Linked DNA regions of Homo sapiens. The protein of the gene in region 1 interacts with the protein of each later gene in a pairwise test. Each region holds a gene or a part of one and is shown in the gene's direction. Other genes may lie near its edges.

Region 1 (8,538 bases):
CAATCTTGGAATGTGCTTCTGTTACTTGCAAACCTAAGACTCATTCACAGTCTGCTCTTGTATTTAATGACATCATAATAATAGCTAACATTTACTGAGCCCATACTTTGTGCCAGGCAATGTTCTAAGTGATTTACAGGTTTTAGCTCACTTGATAAATATTGCTTTTATAAACATCATATGTTGTGGTTATAAATATTAACCACCATTACAATTTAGTTAACAAATCTAATCAGGGACATAAACAAACAGCTCTAGCAATCCAGCTTTGCTTGGATTCAAATCGATTGAATTGATTTGTGTTTTAATTTGTTGAAGGAAAATCTAAGCCACTAGTGACTCCAGAGCATGTGAGTCAGGACAGCCACTCTTCAGGTGAAATAAGAGTTCACATTTTTAAAATGACATAGTGCAAACATGTTTTTACTTGTTTCAAGTCAATAACTGATAATGTTCAATTCAACAAATTCTACAGAAGAAAATCCCACAAACTGCAATTTCCCATTGATAAATTCCCATTGATGTTCTATAGTTTTTACAAACCACATTGGTGTGAGTGGAAGAGACATGCATGTATGGATTAGATATTCTGAATTCCCATGTGAGACTAGGTCCACTTTTTCTGAGGGTTGGGAAGAGATCCCAGGCTCCATGAGGGTCCCCAGGGTGACTTCCCAGCTGGTCCTATGATAGAACTACCTCTGAGAAGGGCAGGGGCCCCTTCCTTTGTGCCTGAGAGGCTGTGAGTGTGAGTTATTATATGGTGAGTCAAGTCACCAAGCAGTGGCTGCCCTGGGATTCCTGGGCAGAGATATAGGAATCGGGTCCGCATGGTGCAGCCAGGCAATGCGTGGGGATTCAGGGAATGGCCACACACACTCCATCCTAGTATTGTTGCTGTAGTGCAACTTGGGCTGTGAGAGGTGGTGTCTGCAGAGGGGCGTTGTGGGCCCCATGCCCCTTTGGCTAAAGTCCAGCATTTGGGTAGATTGATCACAAGCAACAGGTCTAACCCAAAGTTGACTTGGCAGGTCCAGGGCCAGCCCACATTTCTCAACAAGGCTCACAGGGGCTTTCCATATTGCGGTGTGAGGAACAGAGCGCCCACCTCGCCTTCCCCTCCACCTGCTCCCTGATCGCCATCCTGTCCTTCTGAGCCTCCTAGTTTTGACCTTGCTGATTTCTTTTCTGATTTTGGTCTCTCCTCGCCCTTTGTTCTATGGACTTGGTGTTTGGTACATTTTCTTACCATTTCTGTGTTTCTTGTTTTATCAACATATTGCTTTATGCCATCTCAGGGAAGTCCCAGGGACTCTCCCACCCAGTAGGTCTTTGGGGCCGTGGCTCTACCCTGCTTACCTTACTCACTCTCTCGCCAGTGTCTCCCGCATCCCGTTCCCCAGAGTTCAAATCCAGGCCTCGCTGCATAACAGGTAGGCTGTTTGAGGTTACCTTTCCTATTGGAGTCTGTTTCTTTTATAAATGGGGTGGGTAATCCCTTTCTCACAGGGCAGTTGTGAGATGTACTGAGTGTGTGTGTGTGTGTGTGTGTGTAACCATCACAACCTAGTACCAAATGGAAACTAGGTAATCCTAGAAATAGAGCCACCCTCCCCATGACCCTTCTCCCCGACCTTGGTCTCTGCTGTCAGGCAGTGATGTCCTGTCTCTTTCTCCCCCTGTTCCAGCTCCACCCTCCTTCACAGTCAGTGAGGGGGACTCAGACCGAACTTGCTCCTCCCCTAGCAGCAGAGGATCTCTGATTGGCTGCCATCACCATGGCAACCTACTGCCTTCTCTCCCCATCCCTCACTTTCCAGAGCCAGCAGATTTGTGGAGTTCCAGACTTCTCAGGGCTGGGAGGGAAGATACTAGGGGAGGACAGAGAGGCCCCCTTCACAGCTAGGATAGCCATGCATTTGGGGTTTGCTTGGACTCCAAATTCCAGCCTGGTATGCAGTGTGGCCTCTCCTGTCTCCACATGTTGAGGGAATGACTTTCTGATATCCTTAGTTGTCCTGATTCCCACTGAAAAGGCTCAGCTTGATGGCTGAGGGTCCTGGGTTGGTGGCATGTGGCATGAATGATAAGTGTGTTGTTCAGTGATACTCACTGAATGTCAAACAGCACAGTGTTCGTCCTGCCGTCCTTGCAGCCCTGCTGAAAGGATTACACCATAGATTCAGCTCTGGTGTGCTTTGAAAACCCCAAAGGCTGTCAGGGCTCATTCCTCATCCTGGCCACCGCTTGGCCAGGGGCTGGCAGCCTAACTGGAGCCCTCCCCTCTGGATGTGAAGTGGGGGCTTGGAGATGTGTGTCTACATGGGGCCTCCTGGAGAACCACACGGGGTGCTGTGGTGAGATGCCAGCTTGCAGGTCCTGGCAGTGGGGTGCAGGTCAGGGGTTCATGCCAGGGCTTGAGAATCTACTTAATCCCCAGCACAGTCTGCAGGGTGAACATGTGACATCCATGCATTAACTATGATTTTCAAATGCTCATTGATGCTACTGTAGTTTAAAAATAATAACTTCAAAGCATGGGCTGAATTCAAGGCAACTTTTGTCATTATTCGTGTTCTCAGTCAATAGGGGTTTGGTGGTAGAGGGTGAACAAACCCTCCTAAAATAGGGTGAGGTGCCAGGCGTGGTGGTTCATGCCTATAATCCCAGCACTTTGGGAGGCCAAGGCAGGTGGGAGCCCAGGAGTTTGAGACCAGCCTGGGCAACATGGTGAAAACCTGATTCTATAAAAAATTAGCTGGGTGTGGTGGCACATGCCTGTAGTCCCAGCTACTGGGGAGGCTGAGGTGGGAGTATCACTTGAGTCTGGGAGGCAGAGGTTGCAGTAAGCCATGATCACATCACTGCACTCCAGCCTCAATGACAAAGCAAGACTTTGTAAAAAAAAAAAAAAAAAAAAAAGGAGGGAGGAGCAAGGTGATGGAATTATCACACATGCTACAACATGGATGCTCCTTGAAGACATGCCAAGAGAATGAAGCCAGATACAAAAGGACAATACTATTTGATTTCACTGATACGAGGTGCCTAGAATAGGCAAATTCATAGAGACAGAAAGTAGTTTGGGGTTAGCTGGAAAGGAGTGTTATTGCTTACTGGTTACATATGAATATTGGGGAACATGCCAAAGTTCTGGAGATGGAAAGCTGTGATGGCTACACAGCAATGCGTGTGCACTTGAGGCCAGTGAGCTATACACTTCAAAATAGTGAAAATGGTGAGCGTTATGTTGGACATGTTCAGCCTCAATAAAATTACCCCTCCCCGGCTGGGCGTGGTGGCTCATGCCTATAATCCCAGCACTTTGGGAGGCTGAGGCAGGCAGATCACGAGGTCAGGAGTTCAAGTCCAGACTGACCAATATGGTGAAACCCCATCTCTACTAAAAATACAAAAATTAGCCAGGTGTGGTGGTGCGTGCCTGTAGTTCCAGTGACTCAGGAGGCTGAGGCGGGAGAATCTCTTGAATTCGGGAGGTGGAGGTTGCAGTGAGCCGAGATCACGCCATTGCACTCCACCCTGGGTGACAGAGCGAGACTCTGTCTCAAAAAAAAAAGAAAAAAAATTACCCCTCCCCACCAAGAAGAACACATGAGGCAAGGCTGGACGGTGGAATGTGGGGATGATGGACACATCTTGGGGGGATTTAATCTGGAGAGGTGTTCTGGAGGAGGGGGTCTCGCTCCACAGCTGCCTGGCTCCTCTCCTGCCTCACCCTGCCCTCTCCAGCTCACTGGCTGAGGGCAGCAGCCTGTGAAGGTTATGTTAGTGGCTCCCTCATTCCCTGAGGGAACTACAGAAGCCACCATCGCTGACCCGTCACCCCCCCTCAAGATTCCACCATATGGAAATGTAAACTAGTACAGTCACTATGGAAAACAGTGTGAAAAATTTTTAAAGAACTAAAAGTAAATCTACCATTTGATCCACCAATCCTACTCCTGGGTATCTACCCAGAGAAAAAGAAGTTATTGTACAAAAAAGATACTTGCACATGCATGCTTATAGCAGCATGATTCGCAATTGCAAAAATATAGAACCAGCCCAAATGCCCACCAATTAACAAGTGGATAAAGAAAATGTAATACACACACACACACACACACACACACACACACACACACACACCGTGGAATACTACTCAGCCATAAAAAGCAATGAAATAATGGCATTTGCAGCAACCTGGGTGGAATTGGAGACCATTATTCTAAGTGAAGTAACTCAGGAATGGAAAACCAAACATCATATGTTCTCACTCATAAGTGGGAGCTAAGCTAGGAGGGCGCGAAGGCATAAGAATGATACAAGGGACTTAGGAGACTTGGGGGAAAGAGTGGGAGGAGAGTGAGGGATAAAAGACTACTCACTGGGGACAGCGTACACTGCTCGGGTGATGGTGCACCAAAATCTCAGAAATCACCACTAAAGAACTTATTCATGTAACCAAACACCACCTGTTTCCCAAAAACTTACTGAAAATTTTAAAAAATCCACCATATTTGGGAATCACCAGTGTAATGACCAGTCCATCTTCCTACCTGTGGCTCCCTCTGGAAGGCCCAGGAGGGCTGGATGGGAGGGGCAGTGAGGACCCACTAGTGTCAGCAGAGATGTGGCTGATACCTTTGCAAAGGTGGCCAGAGGGAAGCCTTATTCTCCAGAGACTCCAGTGCAGGGCCCTCATCAGCTCCCAATCCTGGGGTTTTTGCAGTCCCCGCAACCCCCCGCCTTCTGAGTCATCGTTCAAACCCACCAGCCCTTCTGACAGAGCTGGAAACAGGCACCAAGCCCTCCAGGAAGCTATTTTTAGGGTTCATCTGTTCTTTTTTATTTCTTCTCTGGATTCCATATTCTCTCACCCCCAAATTTAAAGGACCTAAAGATCCTGGAAATCATTCATTATACCCCCAGCTCGCAAGCTGTGGCTTCTCCCCAACCTTCTCTGTACCACTCCCTCTTTCTTTCTTCCTCTCCGCCCTCACCCCTCTGGTTCTCCAGCTCCACAGGCAGCAGAGAAAGCAGGCTCTTTGTCTGACATCATCTTTCACTCCCTGGCCTGCTAAGAGTTACTCACTCAGGCAATCCCTGCTCCACCAGAGGAGACTGTCCAATTGCCAAGCAACCCACTGCTGGCCAATCACAGAGCTTGGAGGTGATGTCATGGCAAGAGCGAGCAGTGGTGCTGATGTTGAGAGAAGCCCAGGGTACCACTAATTGAGGGAGTGAGGAAGAGAGCAGCTCGCTTCTAACTGGACTGCACGTAAGTAGAAATAAAATGCAACTAATTTGAGGCTTTTCAGGCAAAAGAAAAAACAAGACAGCAGCTACAGTGGGGAGAAGCGAGGGGCCTAGCACCTATTGTGTCACCTTTGGTTCTACTCAATCATTTAAACTTTGTCAGATCTTGGGGGAAAGGGGGTGAGGCAGAAAGAATGGCGCTCGGCCAAGGGGTGAGGGTGGGCTCCGGGTGCCACTTTTATTCCAGAGCTCAGGAGAGGCAGGATGGGTGGGAATTGTCAGATGCTATGGTGAGCTATTTCTGCATAAAAATGTTTTGTTGCTTAAGGAGAAAGGTTTTGTGCTGAGTCTGGCTGCCCCTGCAGCTGGCTGTGACCTGAAGATCCCTTTCAAGTGGGAAGCTCTCCTGTGTTTTTACCTTTTCTTCCTCAGACACAGCTTTTCTTGTCTCCCATTCCCATTTTGATCACACATCTTTTCCTTCGGCTCTATGCACGGGTTACTTTTTTCTCTTGGTTCTAAGGATGCAATGAGATCATCACCTCCTCTTGGCCCCGCCCCACCCTGAGGTCAGCCTAATCCTACCTGGCCAGAGGTGGCTGGCTCCAAAGCTGAAAACTGCAGACACCCAGAACTGCCACGCCCTGGTCCTTGACTGGGGCCCTGGCCAGTCCCCCTCCTTATTCAGCCCACCACACTTGCCAGGAGTTTAGGCATCATTCATTTCTCATCCTGGGACCCAGGGTTTTGATGTCCAGCAGTCAGCTGTCCCCACGTGGCGGTGCTGTCTTTGTTTTATTTCTCCCAGGAAGACACAATCAGGTGTGGTGGAGTCTTGTTGTCCTGAACATGAGCAGGTCTCCAGAATGCTGTGTGTGTGTGTGTGTGTGTGTGTGTGTGTGTGTGTGTGTGTTTGTATGGGGGTCGGAGGGAGAGGTCAGGAATGTTCAGGCACCCTTATCTGAATGCCCTGGGAAGGGATACCCCCTGTCTTAAGACCAAGAGAATACAAGGTGGGATGGCCAGAGGTGGCCTGCTGAGGCTCGAGGGATGGGTGGGAGGTTGAGAGGGAATATGAGGGAATCTGTCTCCACCTGAGGCTGAGCCCCCGCCTCCCAGGGGGAGGAAACCTCTCCCACAGGCGGGTGCTAGGGGAATGAGATCATCCTTCAGATGAGGAAATAATCATAGTGCTGGAGCAGTGAGAAGGCAGAGGGGAAAAGGTCTGATCTGCAGCTCCACAGAAGGAAGCCAGAGTCTCCCAGCAATGCTGCCCTAGTCTCTGGCTCACCCCAACCCTCCGCTTTGCTGCTAGGAGCTGTACTTTCACCCCTCTTGGAAACCACTGAGCACCTGTCAGCTGGTCCCAGCCCTCCTGGCATTCTCAGCTCCACCCAGGCCACTCCTGGAACAGCTCTGGAGTGAGCAGGATCTGCAAGTGCTAGATGGGACTACCATAGAGCATGCTGCCCTGTAGGGAGTGAGTTCCCTGTCACTGAAGGCATTCAAGCAGAAGTTGGATGGCCACCCAGCAGGGAGGCTTTAGAGGAGATTTTTGCATTATGTTAGGGATTGGTCTAGGTTAGTGTTTTAACTGAAGGCTGAGACCCATTAGTACATTGTGAAATCAACTTATGGATTGTAAATGGTATTTTGTTTTAATAAAATGGAATAAGAGTAGAAAATAATTAGAGCACATCTCATGTAATGGGATAATTAATGCTTCCTATGCTGTCTTTAGTTACATATCAGTTATGTGTATATTTGTGTGTACAAATGTACATATATGTCTGTATCTGTAATCATATATGTGTGTATATGTCCATATCATGACAAATACATACTGGATCATAATATAAAATGTAGCACCTTTTGTGAGCTTCAGTCAAAAAAGTTTGAGAAACATTAGGCTAAGTGACTTCTAATTACCTCTCCTAACCCTAAGACTACAAGCCTATGAAAAACTCCCAATAGATAGTCAACCTTTTTTTTTTAATTTTTAACTGCGGTAAATACACATAACATAAAATTTGCCATTCTATTTTTAAGTGTACAAATCAGTAGTATTAAGATTTACATTGCTGTGCATGCAATCTTCAGAACTCTTTTCATTTGGCAAAACTGAAACTCCATACCCATTAGACACTAACTTCCCATTCTCCTGTGCCCCAGCCCCTGGAAAATCCCATCCTACATTCTTTCTCTATAAATTTAACTCCTCTAGGTACCTCAGATAAGTGGAATCATACAGTACTTGTCTTTTTATGATTGGCTTATTTCGCTGAGTGTAATGTCCTCAAGGCTCATCCATGTTGTACACTGTGTGTCCCTATTCCCAAGTAAAAAATAAGTGCCTTTAAGTTGTAATTAAATCTAAATATTTTTTTTTATGGGAAGCTGTCCTTCTTTAGTGAGTTACTTCATTCTAAAGGACCTATCAAAGACGGAGAAGTTTGGTCTCATATTGTCCATAGTGGCCAGGTTGTCGACTAGAGGTGGAGGGACGGTGAAAGTGTCCTGCATTTTTGCTTGGATGGCTGCTTAATAGCTAGATTTCACTTTGGTTCAATAAAAGAAACCCAAATTCCAAGTGGCTATCTTCTTTTACTGGACTAGGCCATTTTTAACCACATTTTTCCTGTAGGGGGATGTGGGCTGATTGATAACTTTTAAAATAGAGCAACAAAGATTGACAAACTGAGGTTCAGAGAATAGGGTATTTGAGCAGGAAAAAGGAACATGGGGCAAATAAATTAGGAAGGTAAGAGAGAGATAAAGAAAGGAGGAGAATTGTGTCTATATTAAACCAACTGTATAGACGGATTGGAAAAATTCAGATATTTTGTGTTCTTGCTTTTAAATAATAGGATATTTAAGTATCAAGATCATAATCAAAGAAAGGCTTAATTTTTCAAGAATGCTTCAGACTGTCTCCCCTGCCCCCTCTGATATCTTTATATTATTTCATACTTACCTGGAGATTCTCATTTGGAAACATAGAGTTCCCGGAGATTTTGAAGACACAGATGGGGAGAAATGAAACTGCTTTTGTGGGAGGAGAGATAGAAATTTTGGGGAATTATACAACATGTAAAGTGTAATTTTCGTAACGCCACTCAGGGAACAAATCCATTTTTTTTAAGCTTGAGAAATAAACATACATCATGTATAATTCGATTTGCTTATTAAATTAGCATTTGCTATATTTAGAGATGTGACAGCCTGGGAAAGGTTGCTTTTTCTGTTTTTCTTTAGAGAGGGATGGATACCAAAAATTCT
Region 2 (7,785 bases), on another chromosome or scaffold:
CCTGTATGAATAAGGCAGCAGGGCCTGAGGTGTCAGTGCCAACGCACCCTCTGTTAGATGTTCCTTTCTTATCATTATGAAAATTTGCAAATACATTAAAACTCCAAAAGATTTTTTTGCTTTATCTATCTGTCCATCAAGGCATTTTATCTTTTAACACAAAATAAATTGCAGACATCAGGACATTTCAACTCTGAACACTTCAGGACGCATATCATTAAGGTTCAAGGTTTTTTCTTTTCAAGGTGAAATCTACATTCAGTGACGAGCACACGTCTTTGGTGTTGGGTGTTACTTTTTGGAAACTGGTTCCTGCCTCGCTTTGATTTCCCTCCGCAGGGCACTGAGTGGAGTGCATGTGCTTGGAAGGCTGGGGCTTTCTGACTAGGTCCTGTCAGGGAGCTGGGGTGGGGTAAGGTGAGGACTCAGGGCCATGCCCAGGACTGGGAGGCAGCATAGGTGTGAGCCTGGGCCATGCTGGGTTTTTTTTTTTTGTAGGGGCGGGTGCGGACAGGGTCTCTCTCTCTCTCACCCAGGATGGAGTGCAGTGGCCTGATCACAGCTCACTGCAGCCTCGACCTCCCCGGGCTCAGGTGATCCTCCCACCTCAGCCTCCCAAGTAGCTGGGATTTCAGGCACACACCACCATGCCCGGCTAATTTTTGTATATTTTGCCGAGATGAGGTTTTGCCATGTTGCCCAAGCTGGGGTCAAATTTCTGGGCTCAAGCAATCCACCTGCCTGGGCCTCTCAAAGTGCTAGGATTACAGGTGTGAGCCACTGTGCTTGGCCTGGGATTCTAATCTGGCTCTGCCACTTCCCAGCTGCGGGACTGTGAGCAGTTGGCTTCCCCTGCTGGAACCTCCTCTATCCTGACCACAGGGCCTGGCTCAGAGGAGCACTGGACAAGGAACATGAAAAGGCTCTGACTTCACCTCAAACTCCTTCCCCGCAGGGTCTCTCATTCATCACTTTTATCTGCTATGTGGCGTCCTCAGCATCTGCCTTCCTCACAGCGCCTCTGCTGGAGTTCCTGCTGGCCTTGTACTTCCTCTTTGCTGATGCCATGCAGCTGAATGACAAGTGGCAGGGCTTGTGCTGGCCCATGATGGTGAGGACAGGGGCCCCAGGAGGGAGGGGTGCCCTGCACAAAGTGGCCAGATGAGGAGTCCAGAGTCGTGCACTTGGGCCCTTATCCTTTCTCTAGTGTGCTGGAGTTTGCAGTTGGTTAGAACTGGATGGAGAGACCCAGCTTCAGATCATCCCAGCTCCACTACTCAGCAGCCCTGTGACCTCAAGTGGGCTGTGGTGCCTCTAGAGCAGGTCTGTGAGGCAGGGAACCCGGAGAGGGGTCTCTGGCCACCAGGTGGCGCCGGTGCTCCCCACCGGGCCTACAGGAATGAGCTGCCGCCACAGGAATTCAAGCCATTTCCACGTGGGCAGGACAGGTTAACTGAGGACTTGCAGGGCTTACCCAGACTTCAGCCATCGGCAACCCTGACCTCGTTTTATCACCTGTGAGGGCCCAGACCCCAGTGGACCTCGCTGAATGAAATGTGTCCTAGAGAAAGGGCAGCAAAGGCTCAACTTGAACCCTTGTCTCTTGACTTCATATCCAGCATCTGCTGCCTCAGGAGGGCTGCACCCTCTGTGTCCCCATCTTAGGGACGGATAAGCAGAAACTGTGGTCCATGAATGGATCGGCCACAAGAGTGTGACAAAGCCGAGGCCCAGAGCCAGATCTCCCCAATGGAGAGCGGGAAGGGAGCAGGTGGGGGTGTTTCCAACTTCTGCTTCCACCGCATCGCAGGGCAGGCTGCACCCTGATCCACACAGTTTTTTGCCCAGAGCTTAGGACAGCAGCCCCGCTGGACCCGGGATAGGGCAGTGTCAGCTGCTGGCAAGGCAGCAGAGGCACCTCGGGGGTGGGACAAGGGCCTAGGCATGTGGGTGGGGCCAGGATGGGATAGGAGCCCTCAGGTGCTAGGCCTGGGGCTGGGAACACGACCAGGCTGCCAGGCCTCCTCCCCATGCTGTGCTCAGCTCCAGGGGCTCAGGGCAGCATGCCCCTCTCTCCCCAGGACTTCCTGCGCTGTGTCACCGCGGCCCTCATCTACTTTGCTATCTCCATCACGGCCATCGCCAAGTACTCGGATGGGGCTTCCAAAGCCGCTGGGGTGAGCAGCCGCCCCACCCCTCTGGAAACTGCAGATGCCCCTCTAGCCCCTCATTTAGGGTGGGACCTGGGGCAGAGCCTTTCCCTGCTGGGGCCCCCCTGGGGTCTCATGTGGGTCCCGATGATGATTCCAAAGTCCTCTCATTAAAGACTGACTCTACCCGGGGTTTTGAAAGGCTGTTTGTCAAACCAAGTTCACAGCTCATTTTCCCACTTCCGTTACTCACAGGGGTCTGTGCCTGACACTCGGGCTGTTTGTCCAAGCAGATCTGAAATGGGCCGTGAGGCTGGGGCAGCAGCCTCCCGGAGCAGGGAGTCAGCCCTGTGATGCATCCCATCCACCCTGTCCACAGGTGTTTGGCTTCTTTGCTACCATCGTGTTTGCAACTGATTTCTACCTGATCTTTAACGACGTGGCCAAATTCCTCAAACAAGGGGACTCTGCAGATGAGACCACAGCCCACAAGACAGAAGGTAAGCGGCTGCCCTGATCACCCCAGCAGTGCTGCAACAGGGGCCTGCCCTCCCTCGGGGATGCCAGCTAGTTTGAGGCTGGGGTGGGATCATTTCCTCTCTCCCCATGGCAGGAAGTGTTTTCACAGCCCATTCTCACCTACCCTCATGCAGCACTGATCCAAAGCCAGTCCCATTCGCCTCGTGCACCCTCACCCCAGCCTTTCTAGGAGGGGCAAGCAGTGGGCATGGCTGAGCCTCAGGCCAGGCCGGCAAGTCTCCCTGGACGACCCCCCTGGGCAGCCAGTCACTCTCGGGCACCTGTCCACCTGGGATCCAGAGTGGCCATCCCCCAAACCCAGCCCCTCTGCTGTCTTACCCATCCAGGCCTGTCCTGGGAAGCTCAGAGCCCAGAAAGGAGTCAGACCCAGAAACCGTGGCAAGGGACAGATGATGTGTCCCGTACCAGGGGAGGGGCCAGATGGGGCAGCAATGACGACAGTAAAACAGGAGCCGATAGAGGGAGGGATACAGTAGCTGAAAGCAGGCCCACGCTGGGTGTCAGCTGGCCCGAGGCTCTGGAGGGGACACTAGAGCTGGGTACTGACAGATGGCAGTAGAGGAGTGTGCAGGCAGAAGAGACCAGGCCGGTGTAGGGAAGAAGGCTGAGAGCAGAGACAGCAGGCGCTTCTGCCTGGGGAGATGCTTCTCTGGACCAGGCGGATGTGCCCCTGTGCTGGCAGTGCCTGTGGCTGGACAGGTAGACAAGGGCAGCTCTGGAAGGGCCTGCAGGCCCCACCCTGTGGTTGGGATCTTCCCTAGGCAGGACCAGTAGGTTAGGCTTAAGAGCCACTGGTTTCCTAACAGCCAGGTGCTGGGGCCATGGGGATTTGTGAATCCCAGAAACCGTCCTTCTGCTGAAAATGAATGCCACTCATCCCATCCCGTCCCTTGGCAAATATTAGGTTAGAGCTCCCAGGCGGTTTCCTCAGGCTCTGCAACCTGCTCCCAGTTGCCCGCAGCAAGTGATCCCAGACAACCAGCCCAGGGACCAATTAGTAAACGTCAGTGGAAACTTGGGTGGTTTTATTTTGTTTTTTTTGTTTTACTATTTGGAGAGTTTCACATATGTAACAATTATTTTGCTGTAAAATTATTCTTGACTTATATGTTAGAATTGAATATAGCAGCCAGGCACAGTGGCTCACGCCTGTAATCTCAACACTTTGGGAGGCCGAGACGGGTGGATCACTTGAGGTCAGGAGTTTGAGACCAGCCTGGCCAACACGGTGAAACCCCATCTCTACTAAAAATACAAAAATCAGCCAGGCATGGTGGTGCCCGCCTGTAATCCCAGCTACTTGGGAGGCTGAGGCAGGAGAATCACCTATGGGAGGCAGAGGTTGCAGTGACCTGAGATCAAGACATCGCACTCCAGCCTGGGCGACAGAGTGAGACTCCATCTCGGGGGGAAAAAATTGAATATAGCAAAACCCACAAAATCTGACGAGTGCAGCCCAGGAACCGGAGTGAGGGACAGAGCTGGGGTTTAGGGACTAGGCTGCCCACACCCCAGCCCTGAGCCCAGCCATGAGCCAGCGACAGCTCATGGGGACTGACTGGGGTTCTGAGAGACAGAGGCTGGCCAGGGAGGGGATGAGCATCAGGAAGTAGCAACCAGCACTGGGGTGGGGTTGGGGGTTAGTGACTCTGGTGCTTTTCCTTCTGGGGTGGAGGTTCCAGAAGGCTCTACAGAGCTCCGAGACAGAACTGGGATTTCAGGAACCCTCGAGGTACACCTCATAGGCAGGCCCTTACCATTATAAAATTGTTTCTGATTACAATATTAAACAAGGATTGGGGGAGGGGGATTGAAGATATAAAATGGCTAAAAAGAGGCTTGCTGATTTTCCAGTATATTTTAGTTTGGGGGACAAGAAAATAGCTGTCCTCACCTTGTCCTGCTGAACCTGGGGGTGGGGGTAGAGCTGGAATGCAGAGGTACAGCCCTGACCCACCCAGCTGAGAAAAGCCCAGGGAGACTCCGGAGGGGCTGGGCCTGAGGAAGGGGCACCTGGGCTTCAGTCTTGGGGTGGAAACACCCCCACCTGCACCCGCACCCACACCCTGGAGGTGCAAGTGGCTTCTGCGGCCGGGCACGGTGGCTCACGCCTGTTACCCCAGCACTTTGGGAGGCTGAGGTGGGTAGATCACCTGAGGTCAGGAGTTCAAGACCAGCCTGGTGAAAGCCCATCTCTACTAAAAGTACAAAAATTAGCCAGGTGTGGTGGCACACGCTTATAATCCCAGCTACTCGGGAGGGAGGAAGTTGCAGTGAGTCGAGATCCCGCCATTGCACTCCAGCCTGGGTGATGAGCAAGACTCTGTCTCAAAGACAAAAAACAACAACAAAAAAAAAAGAGAGAGAGAAAGTGGCTGCTGCCTGTGGAGGGCCTCAGGCCCGCGGCCTGCCCTGATGCCAGCGATCACTGGGAACGGTAGAGTCAGCTGCAGGAGGCCTGCACCCAGGCTCCTGCCAGCAACCCAGCTGTGCTTCCCCAGAGACCGTTCCCAGGCACCGCTGCCCTGAGCCTCCTGCCAAGCATCCTCTCTGCTTTCCTTTCAGAAGAGAATTCCGACTCGGACTCTGACTGAAGGCCTGGCGGGTGCCTTGGCAACCTGAGCCACACAGGCCTCCACCCCTGCGCCTCACAGGGGTCGCTGGCGTTGGAGCGGAGGCCTGGACTTCTGAGTTGCAGAGGGGGCTGCGGACACAGCAGGCCCCCTACAGCCTCAGGTTCTGCCTGAGCCCAGCCTACCAGGCTTGCCCCTCAGCTCAGCACTGTTGACCACGCTGCGTATGAGGGCATCTTGGGTATCCCACTCCTTCTCCCCATTTCTGTCCCACAGGCCTTCAGCCCTTTAACGTCTCTGCCAAAAACCAGCACAAGGAGACAAAGCAGAGCCTTGTCTGTATCTGGGCAGCAGGTGTTCCATGCTGCTAGGTGGCGGGGGTCGGGGGTCTTCTGTTTCACTAACAGGAACAAAGACAGAAACCATGACAGGGCTGCCCCGCCAGGCCCCGGTGGGTTTGTCTGCACTTGGTGCTCCTGCCCACACCAGCCACTTTGGTGACAATGACCCTTCCAAGAATCTTTGGTTCAAGGAGCACCAGTTCCCTCTTCATTCTTGAAGCAGGGAGAAATTGACCTTTGCCTTGTCGCCCAGGAAGTGGGGCTCGGCACCCATAACTAACACCTCCCACCCTTGGAAACCATGTCTTCTGGGGGTGAGATGACCATTCTGGGTCTAAGACTGTTTCAAAGAAGAGCTCATAGACTGACTGGTCCAGAAGACAGAGGGTACAACAGTGGCATCACAGTGACAGTGTCATGGGGAGCTGGGCGGGCCCAGCCAAACCCTCCTTCTTCCTAGAGCCCAGCCAGCAGGCAGGAGTTCCTGGACCCTCAGGACAGTGAACTTCCAGACCTCAGGGCAGGTCTATGGGCCACTGCAGGAGATGAGACCAGCCTTCTGTGTTCACCTAACGATTTATACTGTGTATCTGTCTTTGATGGAATTTTGTAACTTTTTATATTTTTTTATGCAAAAGCAGCTTCTTAACAGATGGCATTTTCTGTGACTCTAGGCCTCACAAAAGAGCCAGAGTTCTGGACCCATGTTTGGAGCATTTGTAGCCTTATTCTCTTGCGTGTGAATCTCTTACCCTGAAAAAAAGCCATAATGAATTAAGCCAGACTGACCACTTGCTTGGAGTGTGTGCTTGAAAAAACCAGAGCAATACTGTTGGGTATTGTATCAGGCTTCAGTACAAACTGGTAACACCAATGTGGATCCTGACAGCTTTCAGTTTTAGCAAAAATACACGTGAAATCTGACTACCATTTAATCCTTTATTTCCCTAACCTTTTTGGCACCAGGGACCAGTTTCGTGGAAGACAGTTTTTCCATGGACTGGGGGTTGGCGGGTGGGTTGGGGTGAGGGTGGGAGGGGATGGTTTCAGGATGAGACTGTTCTATCTCAGATCATCAGGCATTAGATTCTCATAAGGAGCACACAACCTAGATCCGTAGCATGCACAGTTTACAATAGGATTCGCATTCCTATGAGAACCTAATCCCACTGCCAATCTGACAGGAGGCAGAGCTCAGGCGGTAATGCCGTTGCTTGCCACCCACCTCCTGCTGTGCAGCCTGGCTCCTAACAGGTCCCATGGTACCAGTCCACTGCCCAGGGGTTGGGGACCCCTGCTCTAGTTCTCACACTACCCTGTTTTATAAACAAAGAAACTGAGACAGAGGTCGGGTAACTGGCCCAGGGCCCTCTCACTTACACATCAGGATAGTGTCTCACGGCAGCCTCAGGCAGCCGGAACCCTGGGGCTCTCCTGGTTTGGAAGCTGGTTGCATAACAGCCCAGAGGACTACAGCCCTGGAGGACCCGGGTCCGCATTCTTATCCAGGCTGATGGGAAAAGACAAGACATTCCACCCAAACTGTCACACACCACATGTGCTGAAAATGGGTAAGAAAGCTGGGTGTGCAGGAGTGGAGAGGCCCCTGGTGGAATTTACATTCCACCTTGTAAGCCCTGGCAAAGCGGCAAAGCTGGTGTCACAGAGGCCTTGTTCCACCCTGAGGATCGTGGCTCTGTTCAACCTCCACACAGCAGCCCTATTTCAGGAACTGGATCCGTAACGTTTAAGGGGCAGAGGAGGCCACTCAGAGTGAGGAGAGACAACGACATCCTTACACGTCCATTTATTAAACAAGTTCCTTCATGACAATTTAATACAATAGTTATTAACGATTAGTGTTGAGAAAATTATTTCCCTCTACATACAAAAATACAGATTTGAACACTATGAAAAAGATCAAGACAAGTACCATGAAAAACTGGTCCTTCAAATGAAAGGGGGAAAATTGAGGGCAATGTGAGGCTTTGCCTGCTGTCGGGGACAAATCAATAGCAGCAAAGCTTTGGGGCCCCAACCCACTCCATACATACAGACTTGAACCCAAAAGCCAGGCCAGCCAGGGGACGCCCACCCAGGGCTTCCACGTCAGCTGAAAAACCAAACACATAAACCTAAGTTTGCCCAACGGGCATCGCCTCAGAAAGCCCACAGTTGTGT

Evidence for each region.
Region 2: the proteins of STMN4 (region 1) and CMTM3 interact in binary tests that used the Homo sapiens proteins (3 or more experiments, as listed by UniProt).

What each region holds. Positions count from the first base shown.
Region 1 is NC_000008.11:27,255,094-27,263,631, reverse strand, and holds the start of STMN4 (stathmin-4), read left to right. Parts: upstream 1-5,227; 5' UTR 5,228-5,281; intron 5,282-8,538. UniProt on the Homo sapiens protein: Exhibits microtubule-destabilizing activity.
Region 2 is NC_000016.10:66,607,354-66,615,138, forward strand, and holds the end of CMTM3 (CKLF-like MARVEL transmembrane domain-containing protein 3), read left to right. Parts: intron 1-955; coding exon 956-1,111; intron 1,112-2,081; coding exon 2,082-2,177; intron 2,178-2,405; coding exon of another isoform or gene 2,406-2,504; exon of another isoform or gene 2,505-2,529; coding exon 2,530-2,650; intron 2,651-5,255; coding exon 5,256-5,284; 3' UTR 5,285-6,534; downstream 6,535-7,785.